Homo sapiens: one gene and its partner. The protein of the gene in region 2 purifies or fractionates together with the protein of the main gene of each other region. This does not show direct contact. Each region holds a gene or a part of one and is shown on either strand. Other genes may lie near its edges.

Region 1 (4,286 bases), on a different chromosome or scaffold from region 2:
AGTCCTAGCTACTAGGGGGACTGAGGTGGAAGGATCACTTGAGCCCAGAAGTTCAAGGCTGCAGTAAGCTATGATCACACCACTGTACTCTAGACTGGACAACAGAGTAAGACCCTGTCTCTAAAAAATTTAAAAGGTCAGTTTTCCTGCACCTTTGCATTATGCATCTGGTGCTCTCAGGGCAGAAAACTTGTCTTTCAGTTTGTAGGTGGCCAGAACACAAGGAGCCACACCCTAACATGATGGAGGGGACTGTCTCCAGATAGCATGGTCTTTCATCTAGTATGCAATAATGGGCTGGATTTCTGGTGGTTTCTCTTCAGGGAGAGAGGGGTGAGTGTTTTCTCTCTCGGAAGAAGAAGGTACACAGAATTTAGGTAGCCAACAAGGCTGGCTGAGTTTAAAATCCAAAGTTGCCTACCAAACATTCCCTCTTCCCTTCTTCCTTAGTAAAAGAATCCAACTTTTAGCTGGTCACATTGCCACATTGACTTCTCAGCCTCCCTAGCAGCTAGGTGTGGCCATCAGTGTGACCCAGTTCTGGTCGAAACATAAGTTCAGGTGCTGCTGGTTCTGGAAAATGGCCTCAGGGAAGCTAACTCAAGCAGAGAAAGTCCAGTTTTCTTGCCTTCCCCACTGCCTCCAGGAGCAAACTTGAACAGTGAGAGTGAGGTAATCTGAGGATAAAAATCATGCACTGAGGATAGCAGAGCAGAAAGATAGGAACCTGGACACCACCTACTTCTAGACTTATGTAAGAAGAAAAACTCCTATTTAGTTTAAACCACTGTTATCTTTGTTTTTTCTGTTATATGTAACATAACCTAATCTTAAATGATAAAGTATAGAGCAAAATAAAAAAGAATGAAAAATGACCTGAAGTGGTAGCAAAAGTGATTCAGGTGAAGAATTTCTAGCAGTTGAGGTTGCCAAAACTAGAAAAACGTTACCAGGAAACACAGGGAAATACTGTGGCCTTTCCAGAATTGTTAATATCAAACAGACATTTATTGAAAGAAGGAATGATAAGCACCCATAAAAGAATACCTATGTTTACGAGTAAGTGAGAGCAATCTAATTTAAAAGCAAGAGGCAGAGTTTTCTCACTTAAATAGTTCCTAATAGTTTCACTAAATTATGGCATAAAGCCACTTAATTAAATCATTAAAGGAGAACAAAAAAATAAATAAAAGAGCCGTGTGAATGTGAGAGCAGAGAGCAGACAGTGAGTTTGTTTTCTTCCTGGTTCTGATAAACTTCAATCCTTTAATATCTGTGTCCCAAAAAAAGTGTTTTCATTTAAAAAGTATCTCCCTTTATTTCAAATATGCTTTTAAAATATTTATTGAGCAGAGAAAAAGGAAGGGAGCTAAAAAGATGAAATAGATGTTGAGTTAACAGCTTTCTTCCAAGTTCTGGTGGACTTCAGACTTTAAATGTCTGTTGGAAAAAAGAAAAAAGTTCTTATTTTAAAAGTATCTTCCTTTATTCTAAATGTTCCTTCATATACAAATATACTTGTTTTAAAAAATATGCTTAGCTAATCATAGATCACAATTTTAAAAAACATATTCTCTGGTAAGATTAATATAATTAGAAAGAATTACAAATAAAGTTGAAATAAATCATTTTACCATAAATATGGTTATCAAATTATACAAATGATACAGCACTTAAAATTTGCTGCTACATAAAACTTTTGGAGGCATTTTCATTTTTCTATAATCTAAATTGCTCTAATACCACAAAAAATACACAAAAAATAACATAACATCTTAATGATTTGAAATTATATTTGTAATAAATGTGGATTTCAATTGATAAAATAATTTATTTTCCTAAATAAATAATCAAACAAAATTACACACGTGGCTCAAACTTCAATTCTCCAGCTGGCCCTGATGGAGGAATTCCTTGTTGTAATTTTTTTTGTTCCATCTGCTGTATGACCTGGTGAATGGAAAATGAAAGTTAAAAGTATAACTTGATTTTCTATCATATGTGTGACCTTTGACAAAGCACAACAAAGTAAATGAAAATTGTTTTCTAAAACAAAGATATTCAAACTATAAGATTTAGATTTGACTAGGTGCAGTGGCTCACGCCTATAGTCCCAACAATTTCAGAGGCCCAGGTGGGAAGATCACTTAAGGCCAGGAGTTCGAGACCAGCCTCGGCAACACAATGAGACCTGGTCTCTACAAAAAATATTAACATTAGCCAGGAACACTGGCATGCACCTGTAGTCCTAGCTACTGGGGAGGCTGAGGTGGGAGGATCACTTGAGCCCAGGAGTTTGAGGCTGCAGTGAGCTATGATCACAGCACTATACTCCAGCCTGGGAGACAGGCTGTCTCAAAATAAAATAAAATGAAATAAAATAAAATTTAGATTAATATTCCACAAAACAGTTTTAAAGTATTAAAATTTAAAATACTATAGTATAGCTATAGCAGTGTACTATATAGTACAATGAAATATGTTACAAAAACACAGGCTTTTAACAAAGCACCTAAAATCTTTTTAATGCCATAATCTTTTGACAAAATGCCACCTGATGATATTCCAGCTTCTGAGCCTCCAGTTGATCATGCTGACGTTGTAGCTCTTCTTTTTGTTTCTGAAGCTCATCTGCCTTCTTCTTAAGTTCATTTTCTTGTAAAGCAATAATATTTTCATATTCTTTTAGTTCTTCCTCTGTGAAGAACTGTTGCTGATCTAATGTCTAAAAGAAAAAAAATGAGGAAAGAATAATCTCAAAACTACAACAATAAAGTCTGATTTAGCTTTAAAATTCTATGGTTAGCAAAGTATAAAAGAGTATCTATAGGATTACGCCTTTGGAGGTAAGAAGGAAGGGGAAATAAGTAATATATATTTATGTACTCATTTGAACAAAAGGAAAAACAGGAAGAAAAACTCAAGAGATTCTCTTCTGGGATTGACAACTAAAGGCAAAGAGTGAGAACTGGGTAGAAGAGGCAAAGAGAACGTGGGAAGAGAAATAAAATTTGTCATTCCCCCCAACCCTCACTGAAACATGAAATTTTAACAGCTGTCTGCACACAGAAAAGCACAAGAAGCAAACATCAGGTGAGCACTCACAGTACCTGGTTTCAACTTCATATCACCTGCAAAGACACTGAGAAGGGCAAAAGAGACAGTCTTGAATCACCTATGCCACCTCTCTCCCATTCCCTCGTGGCAGACCTGCAGCACAGAGAGTCTGTGCCCTCTGGGGAGGGAGCATAGCGACTGGGGGACTTTACATTGAACTCAGTGCTGCCCTGTCACAGCAGAGAATAAAGCTGTGCTGGGCTCCACCACTGCCCATGCATAGGAGCATTTGAAGCAGCCCTAGCCAGAGGAGAATCACCCATCCCAGCAATGGGCACTGAATTTCCTGGCAGGCCTCACCATGCGGGCTGAAGTGCTCTGGGGTCCTAGGTAAACTTGAAAGGCAGTCTAGGAAAGGAGGACTGTAATTCCTAGGCAACTCCTAGTGCTAGGCTGGGCTTAGAGCCAGTGAACTAGGGTAGCAGGTGACCAGGGGAGATACCAGCTGGTGAGGCTAAGGGAACGCTTGTGCTACCCCTCCCCCAACCTCAGGCAGTGCAGCTTGTGGCTATGAAAGTGACTCCTTTCTTGAGGAAAGGAGAGGAAAAAGTAAAGAGGGCTTTGTTTTGCATCTTGGATACCAGCTAAGCCATAGTAGGATAGGACACCAGGCAGAGTTGTGAGGACCTGATTCCAGGCCCTAGCTCCCAGGTGACATTTCTAGACATACCCTGCTGGCCCAAAAGGAAACTGCTGCCTTAAGGGAGCAGTCCTGGCAGGCTTCATCACTTGCTAAGTAAAGAGCCCCTGGGCCCTGAATAATCAGCGGCAAGACCCATGGAGTATGCTGTGGGTCTTGGACTGAGACATGCTGGCTTCGGGGTGACCCAGCACATTCCCAGCTGTAGTGGCTATGGCGAGAGACCCCTGTTTGAGGAAAGCAGAGGGAAAGTAAAGGCGATTTTTGTCTTGCACCCTAGGTACCAGCTCAGCCACAATGGGGTAGACCAACAAGCAGTCTTTTGGAGTCCCTGAGTCCAGGCCTTGGCTCTTGGACAGCATTTCTGGACTCGCCTTGGGCCAGAGGGGAGCCCACTTCCCTGAAGGGTAAAGGCCTGGCAGCATTTACCGCAAGGTGACAGAAAAGCCCTTGGGCTTTCAGTAAATATCAGCAGTGGCTGGCAGAACCCCATGTGGACCAGAGATGGTGGTAGTAATGGCCACAGGGA
Region 2 (4,348 bases):
GTACCAAGTGCTGGATCAGTAGCAATGGAATTCGCAGTATCGGTGGTGGGAATGTAAATCGTTTCAATCACTCTGGAAATGTATTTGGCAGTATCTACACTAGACAGCTAAATATATGCAGTTCCAGCACTTCTCATAGCTATATATACCCACGAGAAATGATTACATGCTTACCAAAAGACACGCACAAGCTCATAGCAGCTTTATTCAAAATTGCCAAAGAATCAGCCTCAAAGTCCATCAACAGTGAAATAAATTTATACAAAACTGCCACAGTCACTCAACAAAATTCTACCCAGCAATGAAAAAGAATGTGCTACTGCTACACACAGCAAAAATGCATCTCACTTATTTTATTTCATTTTACTTTATTTTGAGACAGTCATGCTCTGTCACCCAGGCTGGAGGGCAGTGGCGCGATCTCAGCTCAGTGCAAACTCCCCCCTCCCAGGTTCAAGCGATTCTCCTGCCTCAGCCTCCCGAGTAGCTGGGACTACAGGCGCCCACCACCACGCTTGGCTAATTTTTCTATTTTATGCAGAGAAGGGGTTTCACTATGTTGGCCAGCCTGGTCTCAAACTTCTGACCCCAAGTGATCCACCCACCTCAGTCTCCCAAAGTGCTGGGATTACAGGCATGAGCCATCACACCCAGCCATCTCACTTATTTTAAAAAGCCAAAGACAAGAATCTTTGTGTGATTCCATTTATTTAAAGTTCATGAACAAGAAAAACCTCTGAGGTCAGAATAAGGGATGCCCTGTTGGGAGCATTTGACTGGGAAAGGGCTCAAAGACTTTGGAGCTACTTCTTGACAATAGGGAGCTGATGAGATGTCACTGTAAAAAACAACCTGACAGTTGATGACATTGCTTGCTAGCATCTACAGCCACAATGCACATATGGCCTAGCCTCACTTCTGCCTTTCGGAACTCCTGGAAGTCAGTCGAACATATTTTCAGCTAGAATCCTTGCTGCAAGGGAGTCTGGAATCTCTAGTGTTCATAGCCGTCTTCTTTTTAGTTTTTACAGGAGAAGACTGAGGGTCAGTGTTGCTAACAATAACGGAAGCCATACCACTTGATCCTGGCTGAACTGAAGTTTGAATAATAACTTTTGTTTCACTAGGCAACCCTTGCAGTTGCTCCGGCTTTTTAAATGTTTGATGGTCCTTGGTTTTGTGCTCTATTTCCTCCTTCAACGTCAAAAACTGTAGCCGGCACTTGGAACACTGAAGGACCCTCCTTCTGCTGTGCCTCCAACAATGATTCATGTATGGTATTGCAGTTTTGAAAAGTTTGAGACAAAACAGACAAAGCAAATTCTTTGTGTTTTCATGGCACGTTCTAAAATGTGTTTCCACATCAGCAAAGACCGACGATCTGTAATGGCAAACCTGGCACACATAAGGCATTTCGCCAGGCTTATGATGGTCCTTCATGTGTTGTAAGAGGACCTGATCTGTTTCAAATGACAATTCACAGATTTTACAGACAGCAGAGGGCCCCATGGCGATGTGTACACTATCAATGTGACACTGTAGCTGGAAGGGAGTGGGAAACTGCCGGTGGCAGTGCTGGCAGGTGGTGTGGTCTTCCCAGCTGTCGTTCCTCTGCTTCTCAAATTCCAAATGATGCTTCATGTGATTCATAAACTTAATATTTTTTAGAACTTTCACGCAGCTGAGGCATTTAAAGGTGGTGTGAGTCTTCTGTTCCGGCTGCCCATCTCCTTTATGCTGTCCATAGTAAAAGTCGCTAAGTAACACGATGGGATTTTCTTTCTTGGGATCAAAGGTCTTGTTTTGACTTGCTAGACTTGAAATGTCTGTCATTGCCAGGGCAGACTCACTTGCTCTCTCTGGATCTGTAAGATTGAAATGTGCCTTTCCATTAGCATCAGGCCAAGGAAATGTTACTCCATTCTGAACATGGTTTGATGAGTTGCAGATCCCCTGTGAGGGTGTATTTGTGCTTATTGTAGAAGACATATCTGAAGGGACCACAGCTAAAGAAGGTACCCCTGGGATTCCATCCCTGAGTTTAACCCTTTTGGAATCTCTGCTGTTTATATCTGAAGTGGAAAGTCGCTTTGAATCAGGAGAACTCTCATTTCTGCCTCCTCCAGAGACCATAGCTCCAACTAGACACTGAGTCCCTGGGGGGAGCGAGTCTGAGGAACTGGGAGAAACAACTTGTGGTGAGCTCATTTTATAACCAGGTTCAGATGAAGACTTCATAGTGACAGGACTATCTGTCGATCGCCCCTCAGACAGAGAAACCGGCATGATGGCTTTTGCCATAGAGGTCACATGATTTGCAGGCTGCGACACGTGAGCAGGATATTGACGGAAGTGGCCTTTCTTTCTTCTTGAATTTGAGCCTGGGGTGACTCTGTTCAAAATGTTTGAAACGACTGGTTTTGAATTTGAAATCATCCCGACAAAGAGAACTTCAGCATCTCTATGTACATGCTCCACCCCAACATAGATCAGATCTGGATCTTCATCATCCTCCTCCCTTTGTTTGGATTCTCTCAAATTCTTCTTTGGTGATTCCACTTTCTTACACAAAAAGATATCTCCCATTTTCAATTTACTTTTTGCTTGAAGCCACTGGTCTCTTCAACTTCCAGAGCTGTCTTTTTACAAATTGCCACCTAAGTGCAACCATGTGACAATAGTCAATATTTATTTCGAAAGACAAAATCATTACTTTATTGTATCCTCCCTTAAAACACTGAGATAACCATCAACATCTCTATTTTACACGTCAGAAATGAGGCTTGAAACATTTTAAATGGCATAATAATTTCAAATTTACCTGTCTCTCCTCCCCTGGTCTTCTGCAGTTGTGAGGCAAAGGAAGCAAGATTTCAGGAGGTGCAGATGGAACATCTCAGAGTGCTTGCCTCTAAATTTTGCACTCTAGATGCCTCACTCACCTCCTCCTCATCCCACAGGTACTCTCTCAGATGTCTAAGGTTTCTAACCAACTTGAACAAAACTTCTCTCAAAAACATTCTGCTCCTAGCCTGGGCAACATAGCAAGACCCCATCTCTACAAAAAAATTTAAAAATTAAAAAAAATTAGCTTGGCATGGTGGTACACACCTGTGGTCCCAGCTACTTGGGAGGCTGAGCCAAGAGGAACACTTGAGCCCAGGACTTCAAAGCTATGTTCATGCCACTGCACTCCAGCCTGGGCAACCAAATGAGACCCCATCACACAAACACACACACACACAAATCACAGCACACACACACACACACACCCTTTGCTGTTCCTGTAATGTTCCTTTTCTCAGTAAACTCAGTTGCTCAGTCTACAAACTTCAGAGTCATCCTTTGCCAGACTTTCTCTCATACACTACAGCCAATCAATTAGCAAAGCTAGTCTGCTCTATCTTTTAAAGATATCCAGAATCTGACTACTCTCTTCCACATCTACTGCCACCTCCCTGATGGAAGGTACCATGTTCTCTCCCTGGATCACTGCAGAAGTTGCCAGTCTTAAAAGTTTTGTCAGATCTCCCCATGGTGGCCCCAATGCCCCTGTTAAAATATACAGGGGAGCAAGTATATTTCGCTCTTAAGTCTTCAATGACTTTCCATTTCATTCATAGGAAATACCAGCAAACTTTAAATTTCCCCATGGAACCTTAGGTCATCATCGCCCTTGCTAACTCCTCTGTTGCTCTGATGCAGCCATCCTGAGCTCCGTGAATCTGGAACACAGCAGGCCTTTTTCTTTTTCAGAACTTTTGTTGTTCCCGGACGTTGCGTGCCTCTTTCCCCAGATTAACCCCATCTGGGCTCCTGGTCTGCCTCAGTCCCATGGTTCCTCTTCAGCAAGGCTTACCTGACCACAATATCAAAAATCACAACCTCCTTAACTCATATGTTCAAACCCTCAATGTTATTTTTCAACTTAGCATTTATCACTGCCTACCACACAATATGTAAAATATATCTTGCAAGCCCAGGAGTTTGAGATTACAGTGAGATATATCATGTCACTGCATCCAGCCTGGGTGACAGAGGAAAGGAAGACTCTGTGTCTTAAAACAACAACAAAAAATGGGACAGGTGCAGTGGCTCGTACCTGTAATCCCAACACTTTGTAAGGCCAAGGCGGAAGGATTGCTTGAGGTCAGGAGCTCGAGACCAGCCTGGGCAACATAGCAAGACCCATCTCTACAAAAAATTTAAAAATATAACTTGTTTCTTTTCTGTGTTTACCCACTAAACTGTATGCCACACGAGGGCAGGGAGTTGTGTTTCATTTACTCCTCAGCTTATAGAGCAATGTCTGTCATACTGTGCATGCTAAATCTTTGTTAAATAAATA

Evidence for each region.
Region 1: the proteins of ZNF280A (region 2) and NUCB2 purify together in Homo sapiens (affinity purification with mass spectrometry; 2 studies listed by BioGRID and IntAct, with this or other methods). This does not show direct contact.

The regions. Positions count from the first base shown.
Region 1 is NC_000011.10:17,328,566-17,332,851, reverse strand, and holds the end of NUCB2 (nucleobindin-2 isoform 1 preproprotein), read right to left. Parts: intron 2,726-4,286; coding exon 2,555-2,725; intron 1,951-2,554; coding exon 1,869-1,950; intron 1,441-1,868; coding exon 1,433-1,440; 3' UTR 641-1,432; downstream 1-640. UniProt on the Homo sapiens protein: Calcium-binding protein which may have a role in calcium homeostasis. Acts as a non-receptor guanine nucleotide exchange factor which binds to and activates guanine nucleotide-binding protein (G-protein) alpha subunit GNAI3.
Region 2 is NC_000022.11:22,513,045-22,517,392, forward strand, and holds the end of ZNF280A (zinc finger protein 280A), read right to left. Parts: intron 2,658-4,348; 5' UTR 2,587-2,657; coding exon 958-2,586; 3' UTR 692-957; downstream 1-691. UniProt on the Homo sapiens protein: May function as a transcription factor.